Linked DNA regions of Homo sapiens: all the other regions are reported to be linked to region 1. The links are microRNA targets in miRTarBase. Many come from high-throughput screens and were not tested one by one. Region 1 holds a microRNA gene; each other region holds the end of a gene's coding sequence. Distances are between the middles of the regions.

Region 1 (8,142 bases):
AGTCCTGTAAAAACCAGTGGTGATTGCTGAATATGGCATTCATTGTGAGCTCGAAGCTAAAACAGAAGCAAAGAGAAGCCAATTAGGAGACTTGAAAACCAAGGAAAATAGTAGGGATAGACTGATGATTATGTAACTATGATACTTTGTCCTTATAAGGGAATAAGACAATTAGAGGTGAGAAAGAAGTTTTTAATAAACAAAATGAAAAATAAAAGGGGAGAAGGTGTTTCTTAATATTATGGGTGGGTAGTTTTAAATGTCAATACATTTTCCTATAAACTCCTCATGTGGAGAGTAACGGAAAATAGTTTTATATGGGAGGACTTTTTTAAAAATTGACATTTTAAAGACCTAAGTGTCTTAAATGGATGACTATTAAAATACAAAATTAGACAGAACAGAGACATTTTGAAGATTGTATTTGAGTAGTATCCTAAGAGGCAGATAATGAATGACTCAGATAGTCTGAGTGGTTTGGGCTGACTCACATGTTTTGGAAAAATGTATCATCAACTCACTGAATCTGTCATTGTTTTTCCCTTTGTTCCACCTGGTAGTACCAAACAAATTTGAAATATCAGTGACTTTCTCAGCTCCAATTTCTCAAGAAGACTTTCCAAACCACCAATAATAAGTCTAAGGTTTGAATATATAAACATTTAGTATATTTGAATAATACTCACTAACAGAAGCACAAGGCATGTCTGTAACTATGGAACATGTGAGGGATGGGAAACACAAACAGCCTTGACAAGAGAAGTACAGAAGAACCAAGACTGGGCTTGGCTTGTCAGGATGGAAGAAAAGGGCTTTCTTAGCCAGTGCTGCTTGAATGGTGCTTCCTGGAAGATATTTGAAATCACAAATATTATCTGGACTTATAAATGAGGGAGCCTTGGCCTTTGTTCAAGAAAGGATCACAGCCTACTAGGGAAACTGACACAGGGACTAATAGGTGATACCATTTGATATATCATAATACATATAAGAGCAACATTTTGTGGGGAGCATAGAGTAGTCAGTGTCTTACGCCTCTAGGATTAAGAAGCCCTGCAGAAGGAGAGACATTTGGTCTGGGCCTTAAAGGATGAATTGAAATTCTAAACGTCCACAAAATAGAAAAAGCATTTCAACTGTAAGTAAGGACCGAACAAGAAAGAAAGAGACACAGGAGTGCAAATTTTGGGGTGTGTTCAGAGAATGGTTAATAATTCAATGCAGCCACAGACTGGAGGAAGCAGTAAAAGATAAGATGGGAATACGAGACACAAAGATGTGTCAGATCTGTGCAGTTCTCTTGGCATGGGCCACATGATCCATGTCTTGGCATTATCCCAGTCTAAAGAATATGTCTAACCTGAAAATGGCTATTCTTCTAAATCTGTGATTTGGCTTCCTGGCAGAACCCCAATATGGGTGATGAACAACAGTAGTCTAAGAAAATCTTGCAATCTTTTCTATACCCATGTATCCATATATCCTTATGTTGCTTATAGTGCTAAGAACTTATGGTATGAAGTCCTTGATAAGTAACTATTGAAAAAATGTAATAATGAATCATATGGACATGCAGACACACATACCTTTACATACAACTTCAGAAACTTCATTGCTTTCTAAACATTTAAGTCTAACTGGTGTGTTACAACCTTCAAAATATGTTCACTTGAATGTTGCTGAGAGAGTTTTTGACCCTTTGCTGTTTTCCCACAGGATTGAAAAAACGTACAAGGAAGGCCTTTGGAATACGGAAGAAAGAAAAGGACACTGATTCTACGTATGTACTTTAGGAGTTTGCCTCCTCGAAGAAGCTATTTGCATAAGAGATGCTCTTATCACAGTCAATATAAGATGGCCACAGTTTTCTCGGATATTGTGTACTATTTGCTTTCCTCATTTCTGAGTAAATTGTAATTATTCAATATAAACAGTTCTTAGATTTATGCTAAAAAGGTAAAAATTTTTCATCATGTGTTCAGTTTTTATCACATTTTTCTTTCTTTCTTTTTTTTTTTTTTTTTTTTTTGATCATTACACTTCCCAGCAGTCTCAGGAGGCAGAAAATGTGACTGTTACTTTTATGAAGGATAAAAATAATTCATTTCCACATATAGGGTTGACCTTACAATCTGAACTAAAGAAACAACAAAACACCTGTTTGGATAGATTAGACCTAGCCAGAAACAGAAATGTAGACTAGATAACATCTCCAAGCTCTTACTTGAGATGCCAAGATTTTGTACAAGCCAAATTGTAAATCAACCAACAGAATTCAGGAATTATTGGATATTTAGCAGTGAATAAGAAACAAATGCCAGAAACAACTGTGGGGATGCTTTTACATATTTAAGTGTCATATCCAAGAGAATTAATTGCCCACAGACACTGATAGACTCTGAAAATGTGCAATGACATAACAGTTTCATTCCACAAACTTCCTTCCACTTATTTGACCATCTTGAATTCTCCTGCAGAAGTATTTGGCTCTGACACAAAACCTCAGTTGCCTTTTGCAGCCAAGCAGGTAACTTATATATGTGAAGTCCACTGGCCGGGAACTTGAGACTCCAGCCCAAGACCAGTGTAGGGAGAGCACAACTATTCAGCTGCAGGTGGTTGTGACCAGGTAGAAATGCAGAACTGATGTAGTTTGCTGTACGTCAGAATCAAGCCCATTATACCCCTCATTTGGCTAGAATCTCTGAAAGAAAGTTAGAAAATGGGAAAAGCAACAGTTGTATGGGCACAGGTGAAAATGAAGAAAGCCACATTTATTCTCACCTTTAGCTTTTCATTCTGTATATTTTTATCATGCGTAAATTTTGTCACAAGATCCTGAGTATTTCCCTGGGCCCTTGTCCTTTAAGAATTTATGATTCATGAGATAAAATATCTACTACATAAATTATTGTTTGTACAACTAATGAGGTAACATATTTGAAATGACTAATATGGTACCTAATACTTAGTAAATGCTCAGCAAATGGCAGTTGCTGGTACTCTTATTATTACTGACACAAATTAGTATGTGTAAGTTCCTTACAAGCAACTAAGATGGGATTTCATGGGAATTTGAGGGTGAAAAATCTCATATTTGGATTGATGATCAGTGATGCTTCGGGGTGGGGGAGGAGACTTGAGTTTGGCCTTCAAGAAGATGAGGATGTGTATTTCATGCAAAGGGAACAACAAAAGCAAAAGTGGAAAGGTAGTAAAGTCCACTAGGCATTTACTGACAAGACAAATGGGGCAGTTTGTCTACTTGGGGTTACAGGTAAATGTGATAATGGAAGGCAAGGCTGGAAAGGAGACCAGGACCAGATAGGAAGGGCCTTAAGTACCAGGCTGAAGTGTGTGGGCTACTTCCATAGGCAGTGGGCCACCTTGAAACCATGAAAGTTTTTAAGCCAAAGAGTGCAAAGGATTGGGCGAACAAAGTTATTTTTTGTCTAGATGCCAAATGTTAAGTTCTTATATTTTCTTTTTGCATTTTCTTTTGTAACTATTTATTTCAAGAATATTACATTTACTGTTGTCCTGCAAATTTTTCTAAATAATTAAGTTAGCAATATTTTTCTGAGGATTATATAATTTACATTGTTTCTTAAGAAGTTTGCCATTTTCTTTCTTATACTTTAAGTTCTAGGGTACAATGTGCACAACGTGCAGGTTTGTTACATATGTATACATGTGCCATGTTGGTGTGCTGCATCCATTAACTCGTCATTAACATTAGGTATATCTCCTAATGCTATCCCTCCCCCCTCCCCCACCCCACAACAGGCCCCGGTGTGTGATGTTCCCCTTCCTGTGTTCAAGTGTTCTCATTGTTCAATTCCCACCTATGAGTGAGAACATGTGGTGTTTGATTTTTTGTCCTCGCGATAGTTTGCTGAGAATGATGGTTTCCAGCTTCATCCACGTCCCTACAAAGGACATGAACTCATTATTTTTTATGGCTGCATAGTATTCCATGGTGTATATGTGCCACATTTTCTTAATCCAGTCTATCATTGTTAGACATTTGGGTTGATTCCAAGTCTTTGCTATTGTGAATAGTGCCACAATAAACATACGTGTGCATGTGTCTTTATAGCAGCATGATTTATATTCCCTTGCCATTTTCTAATCATTAACCACCCAGAATATGTGATGATGCCTTCACTAGATCAGAAGACCTGGGCTGTAGTCCCAGCATTGCCAAAACTCCATGGCTTTGGGAATTACCCTTTACTTTGCTGGGCCTCAGTTTCCACACCTGTAAACAACAACAACAAAGAAATTTACACTAGATGGAATCGAATTTCCCTAAAGGGCCAGACACTATACGAGTCATATAAGGGAAGGCATTATAGGACTCATATAGTGCCAGGTGTTTTGTGGGACACTATTCGATGGATCTCAGGAGAACATCGTTAATGGAAACCAAATCCATTTCTGAATGAAGACAATGTCTGTAATTGACTGCACCAGAGATTTCTGGCATGTGAGGAAAGTTGGAATGGAAAAAAGCTTTCTCGAGAGAGAAAAGGTTGAACAACCTCTACAGGGCAGGCTGAACTAATTTACATGTAGCCAAAGCACTACTCTTCCATCATCATTTCTAAAGTTATTAAAATAACTGAGTTATTCCTCACAGCTACGGGTAGAGGCCCAATATCTCTCTGAGGTACTCTAACGAGACATTTGTTTAAAGAATCCCAAGTATCCTTCCTTAACTTATCATTTGAGAGTCCCAAATTACTTACGTGATAGCAAAATAGCTGAAGCTGGTTCCACCATCAGTGATGGTCAAAGGACAAGCTGTTTAGTATGTTTAGTATAAGCCTTTGCTTTTCATGAACTCCCTAATGCTTTCGTGAACTCTGTAATTGGATCATATATCATTCTCAGAAAAGAAATCATAAATGCAAAGGGGTTGGGAAAGCACTCTAGCAATTTGCTGTCCCTTCAGCTTTAGTAAATGCTTGTGTTTGTCTGTGATCATTGAAGCCTTGTTGATGCAAACTGTTTTCAGGGCTGCTACAACTCACTGTGGGTTGCTCAGCAACCTGCTAGGGTAGACACACCAGCACCAACTTCAGCTGATTGAACCTCCTAAGATATACAGTGGGGTTAGGACCAGAATTTCCTGATTTGGTCATCATTACAGCAGCTGATAGAGGAAGGGAGAGAGGTTGTGCTAAGTGGAAGGCCCTGTGCAGGACATATGTTGCGCTGATATCTTTTTTAGTCTTCCTAGTAATTAAATAAGGTTAGCAGTAATACATCAATTTTAAAGAGAAATATCAGTGCCAAAGGGGGATAAGTAACTTTCTGAAGGCTACCCACAAACTAAGACTTGGAGGCCATATTCTAGTCTAAAATCCAGTGTCTGTGCTTTCATCACCCAAAAGAAAAGATATCAATGGGTAGAATTAAAATCCAGACAGATAGGAGGGTAAAAAAAAAAGACAGTAGTTACAAAAGGTAACTGAAACTTTAAAATATAGATGCCAAAAGTCCATGGTAGATGATTCTTTTTAAAATAGAAGTCAGCAAATACAATAAGTCTGCCATGAAAAAGAAAAAAATTATTTTAAAATACAATATAAAACCTCATTAGAGGGGGTTAGAAAGTGAAATTAGAACACATGCCCAAGTGTCTGAGGCTGCTAAAATCTCTTCACTCCCTAACCTGGGTCATAGTGTATAAAAATTATTATTCTAGAAAACATTTAATGAGCATTTACTATGTTCTAGAGACTGTCTCAGGTTCTTCACTTATGTTAGTCCACTGAATCCTCTAATAGCCCTATGGGATATATGCTGTTATGATGGCTATTTTATAGATGAAGAAACTGAGAAACAAAGGGGTGAAGTAACTTGCCCAAGCTTCTGCAGCTAGGAAATCGACATTGGTTGATCCCATGCAGTCTGGCACTGGAGCCGGTGCCCTTAGCCACCATGCTGACTGACTCCACAGGACACATGAGCCACATTTCCATCAGTCGAGAAGACAAAGGATCAGAATAGGACTCCAGTGCTGCTATGTACAATCACAGTTTCTCTGATTAAAAATTGTGGAAGACCATCCCAACGGCTGCAATAAGCATGAGGTCAAATGCCTCCCATTTAAGATCCCCTACTGATATGACCTTGTACCTGGATTCACAGTGAGCAACACCACAGCCAGGCCAATCTCCGAGCTTTTGCCGCATCTATTTCTTGCTGTTCCCAAAGGCATCTCCACATGGATCAGTGCCTCTAAACACATCCTACCCAAAAGTTGATGCAATCACTTCTCTCCCAGCTCCATTAGCAGAGGTTGAAGTCCTAGTAAGAATTACTCATATGTGGAGATATTAAGTCCTAGTAAGTTGAAGTCCTAGTAAGAAATACTCAGTATATTGGCCAGGCACCGTGGCTCACACCTGTAATTCCAGCACTTTGGGAAGCTGAGGTAGGTGGATTACCTGATGTCAAGAGTTTGAGACCAGCCTGGCCAACATGGTGAAACTGCTTCTCTACTAAAAATACAAAATTAGCTGGGCGTGGTGATGCATGCCTATAATCTCAGCTACTTGGGAGGCTGAGCCAGGAGAATCACTTGAGCCTGGGAGGCAGAGATTGCAGTGAGCTGAGATTTTGCCATTGCACACCAGCCTGGGTGACAAGAGCAAAACTCCGGAAAGAAAGAAAGAAAGAAAGAAAGAAAGAAAGAAAGAAAGAAAGAAAGAAAGAAAGAAAGAAAGAAAGAAAGAAAGAAAGAAAGAAAGAAAGAAAGAAAGAAGGGAGGGAGGGAGGGAGGAAGGAAGGAAGGAAAGAAAGAGAGAAAGAAAGAGAAAGAAAGAAAGAGAGGAAAGAGAGGAAGAAGGAAGGAAGGGAAAGGAAAGGAAGGAAGGGAAAGGAAAGGAAGGAAGGAAGAAAGGAAGAAAGAAAGAAAGAAAGAAAGAAAGAAAGAAAGAAAGAAAGAAAGAAAGAAAGAAAAAAAGAAAGACTGACTCAGTATATAGATACAAAAAGAGAATTGGCTTTGATGAGTATGGATTGGTACCTATCCTCAGTGCTCTCCTGCTAGCCTGGGCTTACTATGACCATGATAACCCACTGGATTTACTCACCCATTTCATTCTCTCTGAGATTAATATGTTTTCATTATTTTTATCCTTTGGTCCTAACCAATCACCTGGCTCATTACAAGCACTTTTGTTGGCCAAGATTCTTCCTATCATTCTATTTTAAATAAAATTTTTTCAAACTGGTTAATTTCCACATCCAGGTAATGTCCAAAAGTCTCAAGATTTCTGTCAATTCCCATGGTCTTTCAATATCAGAATCTTCTCTGTTTCTTGTCCCTGTATCACTGATTCACCTCTGCATCTGTGTGGACACAGAACTCACTAGTTATGAAAAATATGCACTCTGTCAAGTGTATTATAATCCAAGTAGAATATTCTGCTAATTTTGAAGGGATGTTGGTGGGGAAAGGGAATCACACCTTGGAGTCCAGATGGCATCCTACCAACTCTCTGCATTGCTCTCTCTCTCTCTTTCTCTCTCTCTCTTTCTCTCTCTCTCTCTCTCTCTCTCTCTCTCTCTCTCTCTCTCTCTCTTCTCACGGGCTCCCTGCCATGAAGCAATAATTTTCTTACCTGATTGCACCTTCCGAAGAATGGTTCCAACCCCACACCAAACTCCTCAAGACATCAAAGTTCACCTCAAGCACTTATTAAGGTTTTCTTCCAAATAATGAGGCTCCCTTTCGAAGCATAATACGTATCGCTGTATGTTTTAGCCTCTTAAAAACTGAATTAAAATGGGAGGTTATAAAATTACTGTGGCTACCTTTTAGTTTCTCCCTCTGCTCTTGTAATCCAGTTTTCCAAAATACCTCTAATACCTCTCCTACACTGCCCTAAAGTCCAGTGTGGCTGTAAGTGGGCAGTTTTGTGTTCCTAGTGAAGAGACATCTTGGAAGAGAAAAGAAATTATAATCAACTCACAGTTTTGAATACCATGTGTCAGGAACTATTGTAAGTTCTCTCTATATATTATCTTATTTAAACTGGCTTAGAGAGGTTAAGTGTTCAAGGTCATAGAACTATTTGGACACCCAGCTTCATCTTACTCGAAAGCCCTTGCTCTTGACCACTGCAG
Region 2 (8,142 bases), 24 Mb from region 1:
AGATCACTTAGGATAATGGAGGCTCTGAAGGAGAAATGCCTTGCCCAGGCCACCCAGTTTAGTGAGTGGCCAGATCAAGACTCAAGCCCCAGTGTCTGGATTCAGAGTCCGTTGTTTTTCTCACATACCACACAATCCTTTACTTAGGCTATTTGAGGAAAAGACATAAAGGTAATGGGGTTGGGGGTGGATTTAAAACCTTGAAGAACTGTGTGGCAGACAGCAGTGAGGAAGGAGTTGGGATCAAGTGATATGTCCTTTGCTGAAGGGGGAAGGAATGTTAACCTGTTGTGAGTGCTTACTACTAATTTGTAAGTGGCACCATAAGGTGGTAAGGCTCTGGAGCCAGATTGCTTGTGTTTGAATCTTCATGCTTTGCCACTTAATGGCTGTGTGATATTAGGCAAGCTACCTAACCCTCCTACCTCAGCTTCCCTGTTTGTAAAAGGGGCTAATAAAACTACCTGTGTCCTCGAGTTGTTAGGATTGAATGAGAATCATGTAAATTAGTGCCTGACCCACATTAAGGAACTTATAAGTTTTTTTTAAATGGAGGCATTTTACCTATATTGTGATATACTGAAAACCTTAGCATTAAATAATTGTACAAGAAAATATTTCAGGGCATATGAGAAAAATGAGTAGCAGACTACTTGAAATTTTGTAATCAGAGTACTAAAAAAAAATCCAGTAAAACTTCCACAACAGTTAAAAGGATATGTATAATTTGTAATAAAAGAAAGAATTCTACAAGTAAATATCAACCTCTACTTTTAAAAAGCAGCTGGTTTAGAAGGGGGGGGTCTGTCAAGATACGGTGGAGACACAGACCCAATGAATCAAAATTGGGGAGCATAAACAGCACATGGCCAAACTGGTACAAGAAGAGCATGGGAAGGTGGGCATTCTGTACTCAGCTGTGGTTCCTTCTGGTTTCCTGTGTTCCCTTGTTGATGTCCTCTGTGTTCACTTGACATTACTTGGTGGCACAGAAATTAGCTTGCTGGGGAAAATTCAGTATGACGTCATTGGTGCACTGCCATCATTATCCTGTTTACCATTCTCATGGGAGCCAATTCATGTTACTGAAACAACGTATTGGAGCAAAACAGACTGTAAGAGCAGTGGCTACATTGGCACTTTTCTCGTGTCTTCCTTACTGCAGCCTGGTATAATGGAAGGAGTGTGGATCAAGTGAACTGACCTCAGATCCTATCTTTGTCCCCTACTGGTTGTGTGACTTTGGGTAATTTACTCATCCTCTTAAACCGTATCCCCTTACCTATAAAATAAGGATCATAAGAGCCACTTTTTGAAGGCTTATGGTTGAATTAGTGAGATAATGTGTGCCTGGCATATAGGAAGTACACAGTAGGGGTTAGTTTATTTCTTACTTTCTTCTCTACCCAAGTCGCTGCTATTATTGCCTCTTTCCTTCCAGGCCATCACAGAGCCATGAACCAGCAGCACATGATGCCTTCCCAAGCCTTCCAGATGCGGCGTTCCCTGCCTCCAGATGACATCCAGGATGACTTTGATTGGGATTCAATTGTGTAGGGCTTGTTTCTGCAAGACACCAGACCCTAACGTTACCTTTCTGTGCAGTGAAGGGAAAGGTTTAAGAGAATCCAGTTGAGAAAACAAACTTGCTAATCACTTTACCAATGTTATCAAAATTACTTTTGAAGACAATCAGAAGGATTTTAGCTGGATAACTTACTGCTTTTATCTGACCCAAGCAAGTACTACATGTTTGTCTCCCTGCCAGCTGCCCTATGTAGCTCCTAACTGTTGTGTGATTTGGACGGCTTTTTGCATATTTGTGTCAGTTTGATGTTAACCACAAGTGCCAGACTGATTTTTCAGACGGAGCCTATTTTGCTGCAAGCAGTTTATATAAAGATACATATGTGTAAATATATGTACAAAAATTACTGAAAGGCTTCAGTTTTTTCTAATTGGATTATTATGTCTTGAAAGTTATTGTCAGTTTTTATTCCTTGTTAGGCTATTTTCTGCAGGATGCTTTTAACTGATGTAGGAAACTGAAAGGAAATAGATTTTTTCCAAAACCCAGTTCCCCTTATTTAATCTTTTTTAGAAATGTGGGTAATGAATTCTATCTAATAAGTCAAGGAAACCAGAATTTGACACACTCCAACAATCCGAAGGGGCATGTTGCTCCTGAGCAGCATGAAGAACTGACCAAATTGGTTTTGATGCTTGGGGGATCATAGAGTATTTATGTCTGCTTTTCTAAATCTGCATTATAATAGCTCTAAAATTTGTTGATTGGTAAGAAATTGGGCATTGCTTGGCTCTTTAAACACATCAGTGCTTCCACATTCACCTATGTATTTATTATTCAAAAGTGTCATTTTAATATTTATTGCTACCTTCTGTGAATGCTTAGCTCCTGTCGGGTTCATTAAGGAGAAATGTGTCTGAAAGCACAGAACTATTATTATTTTTTTCTTTTTTTGAGATGGAGTCTTGCCCTGTTGCCCAGGCTGGAGTGCAGTGGCACGATCTCGGCTCACTGCAACCTCCGCCTCCCGGGTTCAAGCAATTCTCCTGCCTCAGCCTCCCGAGTAGCTGGGAGTGCAGGTGCACACCGCCATGCCTGGCTGATTTTTTGTATTTTAGTAGAGATGGGGTTTCACCATGTTGCCTGGGCTGGTTGCAAACTCTTGAGCTCAGGCAGTCTGCCTGCCTCAGCCTCCTAGAGTGCTGGGATTACAGACATGAGCCACTGCGCCTGGCCCAGCGTTACTTTTCTTGATAAGAATTTACAGATAAGACACTCAGAGAGACATTGTGTCATTCTCTATCATCACTCCTTTTACCATGTGAATAGATTTCTCTGTCTTGGCATTCTTGCTGATTCAGACTTATTAGTTAAATCGGATTTTTCTGGAATTTGAATCAGATTTCATTTGGGCAACAACAGCAGGGCAGGGTTTCTAAAGCAGGTTTCCCCACTCATCTAGGTTGTCTTGAAAGGAGGATAGAGCCACTTACAGTTTTATTTGCTTCAGTGTTTAATGTAGATATTATGTGGCCTGCTGTTTCTGTTGTCTTGTATGTCTGTGTATGCATGACATTTGGTCCCTTTCTTTGAAATGCAGCCCCTCTTACGGGTTTTTTAGTGGTGGTGGTTTGTTTTGTTTCATATCATATCACAGTTTGCATGGACTGATTATCTTAGTTTTATGATAAAACTAGAAGAAATGAGGGTTTTTTTTTAATGAATAGATTTTGAATTGATTCTTTAGACCCCCCAAAAAGTGTCAGTTCTAATGGGGAAATATATTCCATCAAGTCAAAGAGTAATAACTGCTCACTAGTTGCTTTTTAGCATCTCTGGTCTTATCAGCCATGCTAAATCACTTTAATTAGCCTTAGTGATTCTATGGTTGAGTAATCTCTACTTGAACTAAACAAACATCTTTTGTTTCTGTGTGTGTGTGCTGTGTGTGAGAGTGTGCGCGCGCGTGTGTGTGTGTGTGTTTTAATGGAGTGTTGCCTTGAATGAATCACTGGGAAGCCAGCCATGGTAAGGGCTGGTGAGGTTGGGGAGAAAGGAAGAGCTTTATGTTTCTCTGTTGTTTGGACCCTACTTGGCATGAAAAAGGAAGCTCAGTTCCAGCCCCTTGGATCAACGAAAATCAGAGGATTCTGGAAAGGCAGCCAACTTGCGCCTCTTAGAAGGATCAGAGGCAAGATGAGATGGCAGCCTGCAGAGTAAATGCTTGAAAAAAGAGGGGTGATTTTCAATGGTTTGCTTAAGTCACTGTTTTCTAGACACCAAAATAGCTGTTTTGAAACTGTTTTAATTGCTTGGGTAGCAATGTGCACTTTAAACAATTTGGATATTGGAATGCAGTCTCATACTGAGTGATTTGAGTAGAACCACTGATGATGATTTTATAAATTGTGTGAAGCGAATTTCCCATTTGGCAATCATTTACTGATTTGCAGTGATGAATATTTTTATGAGAATTTAAACTTAGCAAGAATGGCCATGGAGGCAAAGCCTTCACCCAGACCCATCCCACTCTCCTGTGATCCAGGTGGTCCAGGAGCCCAGGACAGGCCTTTTCTGTGGGCCCTGGCCAGACAGGGTTACCTGGTGAGGTGCAGAGAGTCCCTCTAGTGGCCATTTTGTATGGTAGTTGCTAATGCAGAACAAGTTCTGTCTTGGGCTTAAATTGACTGAAGACTTTAGGGGGAAAGAATAGTAAATGCATGTAAACAAATGGGGACACTCTGTTCAGGAGAATAATCCGACTGGCATTTGTGGCAGTTTTTGAAATGTAAATGTATTCATGTGTGTTCTTGTAAATACGTGTCGCTCAGATGTCCTTTGAAGTGGGAGGGAATCAATCCGGGGATAATTTCAAATGGAATAGAGTATTTTGATATTGTTCATTCAGAGGGTGATGTGTACATATCTATATTGTATATATGTGATGAAAATGCATTGGCTTTTTGTGCAGATACAACCTGCTCTCTGTACTGCTGTTGGACAGTCAGTGTTTTAATGTTTCTACAGTTTTGCTATTGCACGATTTCATATTTTGCCTCTATGATGAACGGCAACCATTATTTGTAACTGTTTAGTGCTGTAAAGAAATATTCCAAGTGTCATTAGGATTGTTGCTGCCAGAACTGATATGCATGAATGGCACTTAAAATAAATATATTATGTTAACTCTATTTACAACACTGATTGGTCTCCGTTGTTTGCTGTAATTGAAGAAGTGAGAATGGAGCTAGTCCAGGTGCAGAAACCCCACAGCCAGGACCCCAGAGTCCTTGGGGTCACTGAGATTGTGTCCTTTGCATTACTACCTGAGGACAGTAATTGCTGCCATTTAGTGAGCATCTTATTAGCTCCATGAACTTGGGGAAGTCACTGGATTTCCCTGGGCCTCATTTTCCTTATTTGCAGCGCCAGTACAATGAGGATAGTATCTGCCTCCTAGAGTTGTAGTGGGATTTACATAAATCAGTACATTTAAACATTTAGGACAGCACATGGGACATAAAGCATACTGGTACTCAGTATGTGCCAGGTGCTGTGCTAAGTAGATATTGTGGTCCTCCTTTTACCGACATGGGAACAGCTCAGATAGAGGTATAGAAACTTGTCTAGATTCTTCAGTTGGCAGGTGATAGAGCAGAGGTTTGAATCCAGGTCATTTGATTCCAGGCATCATGTTTTTTGCACAATCCTCTCATACTTACTGAGGGAATTCCCCTCTCCCTACCCCCTGCCCTTGCCCCATCTTGTCCCCAGCACTGCCTTCCCAGAGCTATTTCCAAAAGGTGAAAGTGGGGCTTTACATTTGCTGAGCACATATTCTGTGTTAAGCCCTCTCATGAGAAATCCAGAGATGAGGAAGCCGCAGTTCCTGCCTTTAGAGGGTGCAGACTTGCCCAGGACAGGTAGCAAATGCCAGCCCAGGGAGGCTATTCTGAAGGTATGCTCTGGTAAGGCAAGATTCTGGTGATGCGGAGTTAGGTCATACTGAGGATTGGGGCCGTGGTTTAGGAGAGGCTCCAGGTATGGGCTACCAAGTTGAGTCTTCAAAGGGTCCCAGACAGATGGGAGGAGGTATTGCCATTTATACCATTACCTTGGGCAAGGCATGGGAGCTACCTTAGCATGGGGGTTGTGGGTTGAGGCAAGAGAAGTGCAGGGCTGCTGGTCAAGAGCTGAGCGTAGCAATTCTGTGAGAAATGCTGTCCCCACTTCACTGATGTGGAAACAGGCCCGGAGAGGCTAAGCAACGGGCAGACCAGCCATGTGGCTGGAAGTGAGATTAACCTGGAGTCCCTCCCACTCTAGAAGGGGGACCTTTTCATCAATCCCATGATCTACCCAAAGCCTCAGGCTGCTGCTAACGTAACCCACACAATGCCACCAGAAACATCTTTGGCAGTTTTACAGATAGGGAAACAAGGCCCAGAAAAGTTAACCTGCCCAAATTCTCACAGCTAATAGAGGAGCTGGAATAATTCAGTCCAGACCTAACTCCAGAGTTCATTTCCTTTTACCTCACTGCTATCTAAAAAGAGGAATTTTCCCAAAGCCAAGGATAGTGACTATCCTCCGTGTGTGTGTCCATGTGTCCGTGTGTGTTCCTTGGAGGGAAAGCTGTGCTTCACTCCCATCACAGGTAAGCATTTGTCATTCGCGGTGCCTCTGAAGGACTGTAGTAAGGGCACCACTAAATGTAGTCACCTTGTGCTGATTCAGATGCAGCTGAAGTATACTTCTGCTGATCAAATGAAAAGGCGATTAAGATGCATGTGTAATTCTCAAGGTTTTAAGATACTACAGTGTGCAAAGGGCTGCTGTTTATAGATGTGACCCTTATCAGTTGGGTAAAGGAGTCCTGGAAAAACCATGTAAGCATCAGTTAACATTCACTGAAGGCTTGATAGCTTCTTGGCCTTTTGGCTAAGATCAAATGCATTGAAGGTTTGACTGCATTAAATGCCCTAGAATTACAGCACTATCCTAAAAGCTTCAAGCTGGAAGGGGCCTTAGAAATCAACTAACACAACCCCCACATTTTGTTGTTGGAGAACATTGAGACCCAGAGAGGGAAGGGTCTGCTCACGTTTCACACAGTTAGTTAGGGAAAATTTGGGGGAAGGGAATGAAAGTCATTTGTCTGGCAGCGATTTAAAATTCCTACACATACTGTCTTATTTGATTGCACAATAGTCTGATGATGTAGTACTGTTACTGCCCTCATTTTACAGAAGAAGAAACAGCTTTGGAGAGGTGAGACACAATGGAGTTGTATCATGAATGCGTTCAATCAAAGCATGTAAATTCAGTTGTATATACTTGGCCAAAGAGAGAAGGAATGGAAATTTTAAATAATGTAATGGTGGAGTATCCACCTGTGATGGACATGTGCCCCTGAGTGTGAGATGGAAGATTCAAATCTGAGTCTATAACTGGTATTTGCTTCCATGTACCTTCTGCGTGAGCATCTCATTACTGAGTCAATTCCGGTGGATAAAGAGACATGTGTTTCGTGCAGCATTGTCTTGGGTTCAAGCCAGCAGCTTCCTCCAATGCTCAAAGACAGACTTCAACCAAGAACTAGAAAAACTGGCCGGGTTGGGCTTATTGAGACATGTTTATCCACAAAAGTGCTGCCTTCCCAAAGGATTTTCAAGAGTGATTTTTGAGCTTACCTCCTTGGACTCTTCCCTTAATATATGTGACTAGTCAACATGTACAGAGCAGAGACTTGGTAGCTGACTGCGTCAGAACCAGAATTCAACCCTAGGTCAGGGCTTCAACCCCCAGCTCTCCTGCAGTACCCCTAAGCGATGCTGACCTCAGAAGTACAGAATTGGACAGCTACTCTTTATTAAAAGTTCCTGTTACTTAATATTACTTATCCTAAGCACCTGATGTGGATTATCATACTTACTCTTTGAAGTAACTGTGTGTAGTAGATACTCTTATTATCAACTTCATCTTGCAGAGCCACAGAAATGAAGTCCCTTGCCCAAGGTCATCCAGCTTGTAAGTGGCACAGGTAATAATAGCAACAGTAAAGCTGGGGTTTTGAACCTAGGCCATTCAGCTCCAATGTCTGCGCCATTCACCACCACATTGTGCTGTTTCAGGCCCTGTTCCCGGAGCGACCAGGCGGAGAATGAGGGCCTTAGAACAAAGCCAAAGCTACTTTGCAATTAGGCTGTAGTGAGTGCCTGTGGCCACTAGGGGGCGGGGCTGCCGGCTGTGCACCTTTCCTCTTTTGGAGGGTTTCCTTTACCCTTACTTAGGGCTGTGCTCCCTTTCTCTGCAGCCCCCAGATTTTGGTGCTCCTAAAGAAAGGTAGGGATTCCACTAGCCAGCCTTTAGAATCTGTGCTCCTCCTCTCCTGTGTCAGAGCTTGCTGGAGGAAGCCAAGGAGCCTGTCTAGTTCTCGGCCACATACTGCTGGGGCCCACTCTAGAGCTGCCTCTGAAGTCTGCTGCCCCGTCCCAGCCTCCTGGTGCCTATGGCTCCCCTGCTCCAGGACTCAGGTGGGAGAAGGTGCCCAGTGTCAGCCCCACACTCTGAGGCTCCTCAGGCTCTGCTCCTTCCTCTTCTGGGGCCAGCTA
Region 3 (8,142 bases), not on the chromosome of region 1:
TTTAATTAGACTATTTTTCTAAAACCATTCTTTAGTTAGTAGTCAATGTTAATAAGATATTTAGGGTTGATAAATACTAAAGCATTGTATATCTATTTAAATAGACTTATGTTTAAATAGGTATAGAAGGAAAAAAGTTTCACTCTCCTTTTTAAGAAAGAGCTAGGCATTAAAAATGTTGGTTGTAGCATGAGGGAGATTCCAATTTAGTCATAATACAGAATTGATTTAGGGTTAATATAATTGTTTTCTCTAGTTAACTACCATAAAGATGTACAATCAAAACAAAACTGTCTCCGGGATATTTAACTGAGGTATCAGAAAATCATGTGACACTTGATGGGGAAATTTAATTTCTCATGGCTAAAAAGTAGAACAAAGAAAGCCTCTTGAAGCTAAGAACAGTTTGTTTTTAATGCACTATTGCTGTAGGAGCTGGGGCTGCCAAATATGCTTGCATAAATTATGCATTGTACAACTCTGGGGACTCCACTCATAGTTACCATGGATTGTGTATTTATTATAGCAGTGTTTTGGCAAATAACATTGAATGGGGCGGCGGGGCAGTGCCTAATTATTCAGAAGTTCTGTTTGGGCTAGTGGTGTGCTATAGGAACTTGAAACCTTCTTTGATATTAAAATGTCACAAGAAAAATATCTCACTAGAGCAGCTTTAGTTAGCAACAAAACTGAATGCCAGCTACAAAAGATAGCAACAAGCAGTCAACCACCAGGAAATAGTAAAATTGGGTAATGAAGTACCCAAAGTAAAATTAAGAGACTTCTAAAACAATATGGACAGCTAGCATTCATTTAGGTGCCTCATATAACTATTTAAAGAAATAAAATTATCTCCAAACCATTCTTATCACCAGTATAAAGGAGTAAACTTCAAGTATATCACAAAAAGTTTTTTTATACTTTTTTCTTTTTTCCTTAAGTTCATTGTGGTGTCACTAAAAGAAGGTATGTTCAACAATGCAAACGTTCTTTTCAAAACCAAGTTTGTGGATGGTGTTTCTACAGTAGCCAGATTTACTCAATGTCAAAATGGAAAGATTTCAAAGGAAGCAAAATCCAAGGCAAAACCACCCAAAGGAGCACATGTGGAAGTTTAAACTACAAAGTTATTTCTTCATCTTGACCTGTTTTTTTAAATGTAAACTTTTAAGGACTTGAGATAACTAATTTGTTTATATACAAAAATTAATGTTACTGTGTTACTTAACCCATGTTTTCTCTTTATATAATCACTTATCGCTTACAAATGAGCATATATTCCTCATCTCTTAACTAGTCTAATTATGGTCCAATTATTGTGGTTGTGATTTTATGCATATCATCAAATGTTTTTTTCTTATGCGGGTCTTTTATATATTAGGGATCCTGAGATACCCGATTCTATATGTAAAAGCTAATATACAAAAAAGCAGATTAAATTACATGATAAATGTAGCTGATCATCAGTGTTTAATTGATTTAATTCCTAAGGCAATATTAATGTGTTTTCTAAAGTCATTCAGGTAAGGAAGAATTATAAATCAGGTAACTGGACCAACAAAGGGAACACATATAAAGCTATTATGCATGCATGGAGCCGTTTGAGGCTAGTTTTTTAAGGCCACAACTCCAGACCCCTGATTTAGACTGAGATAGGAAACAGATCTTGAAAGAATCCTTATTTTAATGATACATGAATATCATGTTCCTATACGCTTAATAATTGGTCTCTACGTTTTAATGATACATGAATATCATGTTCCTATACGCTTAATAATTGGTCTCTACGACTTTAATGTTTTTGTTTTTTTAAGCTGTGTAAGTATTTTTAAATCAAAGCTTAGGAGGTGTGTTGCGTGGTACTATCTGCTGCAAATTTATCTGAAGTTTGTTAATATTTTCCAAGATTTTTGTCAGCCTTTTCATAATCCAGTCATTAACAACCTATTGGTAAACAAGAATGTAGGTGCCAGTAGACTAAACCAAATTTATTTTTCCCTGAGTCTGATATATATATGTATAAATATAAATAACTCAATCCATCTGTTCCACCAAAATAACTCAAAAGTTGGATGATTATTTGTCTTCCGCTTTCCAGTTCAAAGGGATGAAATTCCTTTAGAACTTGAAAGATGACACTAGCGAACACCATGAGAATACTGTCTACAGTTTTTGGTACGTCATCACTAGAACAGTGACCCCAAACTGAATCATGAAAGGTCTGACATGATGTAATCTGATCTTCCATGTGTTATTTTGGCCCCACATCTCTTCTTGATTTTTTAGTCTTATTTCCTTAGTGTTATTATCATACTTCCCCTGATATATGGCCGTACTTCCTGGCCCTGGGCTTGACATTTCCCACCCTTCATTCTCCATACATATGAGATGTCAGAAAACATGCAGTAATTGATATTATGGGACACATTGGAAAGGATTGAATCTGGAATTAGTTCTGTCCACTGTGGAGGGGAGAGGAAATAATGCTGTAAATGTTGAGTTACAGAAAGTCCAATGTCAAATATAGTTTTTTTGTTTCCTTTCAAATGTATTACAGACTGTGCCAAAACAGTTACCAATTCACACTGTCAATATTAAAGTATACCATAGTATACAAATTAGTCAGTACTTGCTGTTAATTTTAATATTTCTGATTTAACAGTTAGTTATTAAGTGGTACTTCATTGCTGTTTTAGCCAACGTTTTAAAAATAATTTGGGAGTTTGACTATTTTGGCTTACGTACTCATTTCCTTTTCTCTGCTAAAAATGTTTTGCTTGTGTGCGTTCCTGATTTTTGTCTTGTATAATCTTGATCTTTGAAAACCCTCAAACATGTATTAAATTGTTGTAACTTTTTTTCATTAGAGGGAAGACATTAAGGGGATTGGGGACATTTGTTTCACACATCTGCAGTAATATGAGTTAACTAATATTTAACAAGCTCTTTCTTTACATTAGCTGCTGTTCTCATTTGTATGTATTGTCATATTTAATCCTCAGAGTAACCTAGTGAGGTAAATACTGTTGTTGTCAGCATGGTGTAATCGAGGAATTGAGTGAGTTGAGCAGAAAAGTTAGGAAACTTGCTCAGGGTGATAATACAGTTAGGAGTGTCAGGGCCCATGGACAAATCTTGTCAGTCTCCAGAACCTAAGATATACTACGTCACTGACAGCTTGAACATTTGTATTTATTGTACAGAATAAATTTAAGAAAAATACCTGTATGAGCAGTATGTACAACGTGAATGTTACCTTAAAGAAGAACCTCAACCATGTGAAGAGAGGATTCATTGTGGTGGTGGCGGTTTTGGCATTTCAAGTAAGCTCACAGCAAATGCAAAGCAAAGACATGAAATTTTCTCTTCCAATAGGGTGGCATAATCTAAAGGCCAACATTCCCACAGATGATAAATATAGATTCTGAGCAAAATACTAGAAACAACTACCTGAGAGTTCAGGAAACTGAAGAAAAACTAGAAAGATTTTGGATGGGAGATAAAATACGGAGGAAGAGACAGGCACAAGCTAAGGTTAATGTTTTTAACCTAAGTACCAGCTATAGTCATGATGCAGCTGTAGGACAGCTAAGGCTGCAGTGGAAAGCCTGGGGTCTTTCTGGTCTGGAGAACTAAAAGATGGGATCTGGGCTAACCACAGCTTCCAGAAAGTGAAGGAGACGTCTCAGAAGGGATAAACGAGGACCTGGAGAAAGAGGTCCCCAGACTTACTTAGTAGATGAAGTCAGCGAAAGTAATTAACCCCTGAACTCTAGATACAGAACACATCAAAGATAAAGCCAGATACTAGTTAAAACAGTAAGGATAGATTTAAATCAGTAACATACTCTTGAAATAAGAAGAGTCCAGTATGAACTGAACTCAATTTTGATTTGTATTGAGGTGACTGGGTGTCTTAAAGGGAGAATGAGGGAATAGAGGAGGATAAGTGGGGGCTTAGAGTCAGGGATATAAACAGGAAAGGGAATTGGTTGATGTGAAACCCATTTAGATTTGTTAACTGGCTCTAATGCCAAGGTAGGCTCTTACCCTCCCACAGAGACTGGGACTCTACCTTCAAGTGTTGGTTGGAAGAAACAGTAAACTCAGCAACCTTGAGTTTTCTCAGGAGTTGACTTTCAGGAGGAGGATAGTCAACCTATGGATGTGGCTTTGAGCTGTTAGAAACTGCTAGTGTTTTTTTCAGATCTTTACAGGCAAAGGTTTATTTAGACGTAGAAAGGGCTCAGAAGAACCTGGCTAGAACTTCATCAAAGAGAATCTTTGTGAAAAAGACAAGCAGTTTGCAGTTTACCATAATAAAATTAAATTGTGATTTGAACTGCCACCTGCAAGACCGTTCTCCAGGTGACCTTGGACTGACCCACTTCTCCCCACTTCTCACTAGTTGTCAAAAAGAACAGCCTTGCTATCTGGTCAGGTGAATGACAACCAAGTGGAAAAAGATCTGTGTGGTTACAAGGAGTATGGCAAAAGGTTGCTAACTGGCAAGGACAAATACATGTCACCTGTGGATGCTGGGAATACCATAGCCACCTTTTAGGGAAACTTAAATTATGTTTTTGGATACCCTGTAAAACTTTGCTCTGACAAGGAACCTCCTTTACTGCCCAAGGAACATGACAGCAGGCACACTCATGGAATACAATGGGTTTTCCATGCACCCTGTCATCCTCAGTCCAATAGAGCTGTTGAACAATGGAAAGCCAGCTCACAATGAGTGAAGGAAGGACACCAAGATAGCCTACAAGTGGGGTGGTACCACCCCATCCGAATATGGCAGTATGGACACTGAGCACTGCCCTCCAGGGCAAGGGAACCACATGATTGCAGCACATGTTGAGAAGCACTGAGCTTGGAGGAGGTACAGGTGGACCAGATGACGGCCTCTGCCTGTGAAATCCAAATTCCAGTGTTCCCAGCCATTTTCTCTTTTTAGAGTGCACATCCTGTGGGTGGTTTGCAGTTCAGGCTGCCACAGTACCCCAAAAGGCCCCCCTAACTCTTAATCTGGAGTCAGCGTTTCCCTCAGGTGCACTCCCTGTGGGATCCCTCAAGGGTGGAAACAGGACCAAGAAATACCAGGATGCTAGAGTCCCTCTGATAGTGCCAGGGACATCTGATCCTTCCATTTGGCTGGGCAATGTTGTCAGACATGTCATCATTCAAGAAGTGACTTCCCTTCCTGGACTGGATGGCTGAGGCTGAAATGTCTGAGGCATTTCAAGGGTAGTACCACAGGATATGGTAATGTTTATAGTATACAGTGTGATGTTTTGATATTTGTATATGTTATGGAATGATTACCTCAATCAAGCTAATTAACATATCATCTCACATAATTACCTTTTTTGTGTGTATGGTGAGAACATTAAGATGTATTCTGGCAAATTTTAAATATATAACAGTATTAGCTATAGTCACCATGCTGTACAGCAGATCTCCAGAACTTATTCATCATGCATAACTATGACTTTGTATTCTTTGATAAACATCTCCCCACTTCCCCTGCTCCCCAGCCCTTGGCAACCACATTCTACTCCCTGGTTCTATGCGTTTGACTTTTTCAGATTTTACAAATGAGTGAGATCATTAGAGTATTTGTCTTTCTGTGCCTCTTTGATTTCGCTTAGCATTATCCCTTCTATGTTAATACATGTCACAAATAACATGTCCTTTTTAACGCTAAATAATACTCCTGTGTGTATCTTTATATCTAGGTTGACTCTAGTTTTTTTGCTAGTATGAATACCGTAAACATTTGTGTACAGGTCACAGACATCTGATCCTTCCATTGTGGTGGGCGATGTTATCAGATAGGTCAAGTTTGTTTAGGACCTGACCTCCCTTCCTGGACTAGACCACTGAGGCCAAAAGGTCTGGGTGAAGTAACAAGGGCAATGGGGCCTGCAGAGGTAGTGGCCTCAGGATAGGGATAGACAGACTGGGTTACTGCCCCAACTCAGCCTGACCCCTATCCCATAGATGGAGTCAACTCTGAGAGATCTGGATGGTTTGGATGCATAACACCTTTGTTAGGTTCTCCTAAGCTGTGGCCATGGCCACAAAGTGATCTGCCATTCTGGACCTCATTCTGTCACAGACCACAGTGACCAAGTCTTATTAATGGCATAGTTGCATTCACTCAGGTTCTCTCGTACAATGTTATTCATGAAGCCCCTACACAGAGGGCTAACAACAATCCAGTCCCTGTTTTTGTTGTTGCCATTGGGATACTTACTCATGTAATAAAAGGTGTGTCAAAGTGCCAGCCCCTCAAGGTTTTGTTAGTTGTGGTTCTGATATTTTGCCAGAGGTCATTATTTTAAAACAGGGCACCAGCATTCCTAATGCTATAACATACACCAGTACACTAACAGAACCTGAGCCTGAGCCCTGATTACTGAGTAAGGATGTATCCATAGCATGGAAAGGAGCCAGAGGTGACCAGTTTTTTTTTTTTGTTTGTTTTTTTGTTTTGTTTTTTTTGGCCTATGGATATCCAATTGCTCCAGCACAATTTGTTGAAAAGGCTGTCTTAGCCAGGCACGGAGGCTCAAGCCTGTAATCTCAGCACTTTGGGAGGCCGAGGCAGGTGGATCACTTGAGGTCAGGAGTTCGAGACCAGCCAGACCAACATGGTGAAACCCCGTCTCTACTAAAAATACAAAAAATTCGCCAGGCATGGTGGTGTGTGCCTGTAATCCCAGCTACTCGAGAGGCAAAGGCAGAATTACTTTAACCTGGGAGGTGGAGGTTGCAGTGAGTTGAGATTGCACCACTGCACTCCAGCCTGGGCAACAGAGCAAGAGACTGTCTAAAAAAAAAGTCTGTCTTTCCTCCTAGAAAAACATCGAGTTGGTTTTTTCTTTTCCAACTGTGTCAAAAATTATTTGGGCATTTTTAAGTCTACTTTTATTATAGGTTCTCTATTCTGTTCCATTGATCTATGTGTCTGTCCCTTTTCCAATATCTCACAGTCTTGATTATGGCCCTACATAATAAGCCTTGAAGTCAGTTAGATTGATTCTTGCTACTTTATTCCTCTTTGTCAAAATTGATTTAGATATTCTTGATGGATGCCTTTCCATACAAGTTTCAGAATAATCTTAACTATATCTACAGAATGCCTTGGGATTTTTATAGGAATTATATTAAACCTAGGTATTAATTTAAAGAGAATTGACATCCTTACTATGTTGAACCTGGTAACCCAGGAATACGGACTGAATGTCTCTCCATTTATTGAGATCTTTAACTTCAACACTGATTATTTTCAGTACACCATATATAGAAAGGCAACAGTCTAGAATATCTAAGTCAAGTTTGACAAAGAGGAATAAAATAGCAGGAATCAAATGTGTATGCTGAAACATTCTGTAAAACATTCTGTACATTTTGTTAGACTTACACCTAAATATTTCATTTTTTGAGCTATGATAAAGGGTATTTATGTGTAACAATAATATCCATATGTTCATCATTAGTGTATATAATTAATTTTTATATGTCTATCTTGTAACCGTTGGCCTTGCTAAACTTCTTAGTTCTAGGTTTCTTGTAGATTTTGCGGGATTTTCTACACAGACAATTATGTCCTCTACAATCATAGGCAGCTTTATTTCTTCCCTGTTGATCTGTATGCCTTTTATTTCCTTTTGTGCCTTATGGCATTGACTGGAACTTCTTAGCACTGTGTTGTGTAAGAATGGTGAGAGCCAGACCATCCTAGCTAACACGGTGCAACCCTGTCTCTACTAAAAATACAAAAAGTTAGCCAGGCCTGGTGGCGGGCACCTATAGTCCCAGCTACTTGGGAGGCTGAGGCAGGAGAATTGCTTGAACCTGGGAGGCGGAGGTTGTAGTGAGCCAAGATCGCGCCACTGCACTCCAGCCTGGGCAACAGAGCAAGACTCCATCTCAAAAAAAAAAAAAAAAAAAAGTGTGGTGAGAGCCACTACACTTGCCTTGTTCCCAAAATCAGGGAGGAAGTATTCTTTCACCTCGAAGTGTAATGTTAGCTGTAAGGTTTTGGTAGATGCTCTTTACCAAACTGAGGAAGTTCTCTTCTATTCCTATTTTGATGGCAGTTTTTTATCACGAATAAGTATTGAATTTTTT

What was found. Region 1 holds the annotated microRNA hsa-miR-3117-5p (AGACACUAUACGAGUCAUAU, at 4,322-4,341, shown strand). A microRNA usually pairs through its seed, bases 2 to 8, with sites in the 3' UTR of a target mRNA and lowers its output. Matches are read on the target gene's strand: a 7mer-m8 pairs with bases 2 to 8, a 7mer-A1 pairs with bases 2 to 7 and ends in A, and an 8mer does both.
Region 2: miRTarBase lists FOXJ3 as a target of hsa-miR-3117-5p. Seed matches in the 3' UTR shown: 7mer-A1 at 2,371-2,377, 7mer-A1 at 3,287-3,293 and 7mer-A1 at 4,644-4,650.
Region 3: the mRNA of SMC2 is a reported target of hsa-miR-3117-5p. Seed matches in the 3' UTR shown: 7mer-A1 at 3,112-3,118.

What each region holds. Positions count from the first base shown.
Region 1 is chr1:66,624,131-66,632,272 of GRCh38, forward strand. It overlaps MIR3117 (microRNA 3117), which reads left to right and starts at 4,310; the gene lies at 4,310-4,387. SGIP1 (SH3GL interacting endocytic adaptor 1) reads left to right here. Exons shown (of 25, transcript NM_032291.4): 2 at 1,717-1,780.
Region 2 is chr1:42,173,125-42,181,266 of GRCh38, reverse strand. FOXJ3 (forkhead box J3) reads left to right here. Exons shown (of 13, transcript NM_014947.5): 13 at 1,442-4,719. The coding sequence ends at 1,557. Among named protein-coding and RNA genes, the nearest start is that of GUCA2A, 12 kb to the right of the region's middle. RefSeq lists an enhancer at 7,533-8,142 and a silencer at 7,987-8,142.
Region 3 is chr9:104,138,198-104,146,339 of GRCh38, forward strand. It overlaps SMC2 (structural maintenance of chromosomes 2), which reads left to right. Exons shown (of 25, transcript NM_006444.3): 25 at 942-3,222. The coding sequence ends at 1,118. Among named protein-coding and RNA genes, the nearest start is that of SMC2, 48 kb to the left of the region's middle.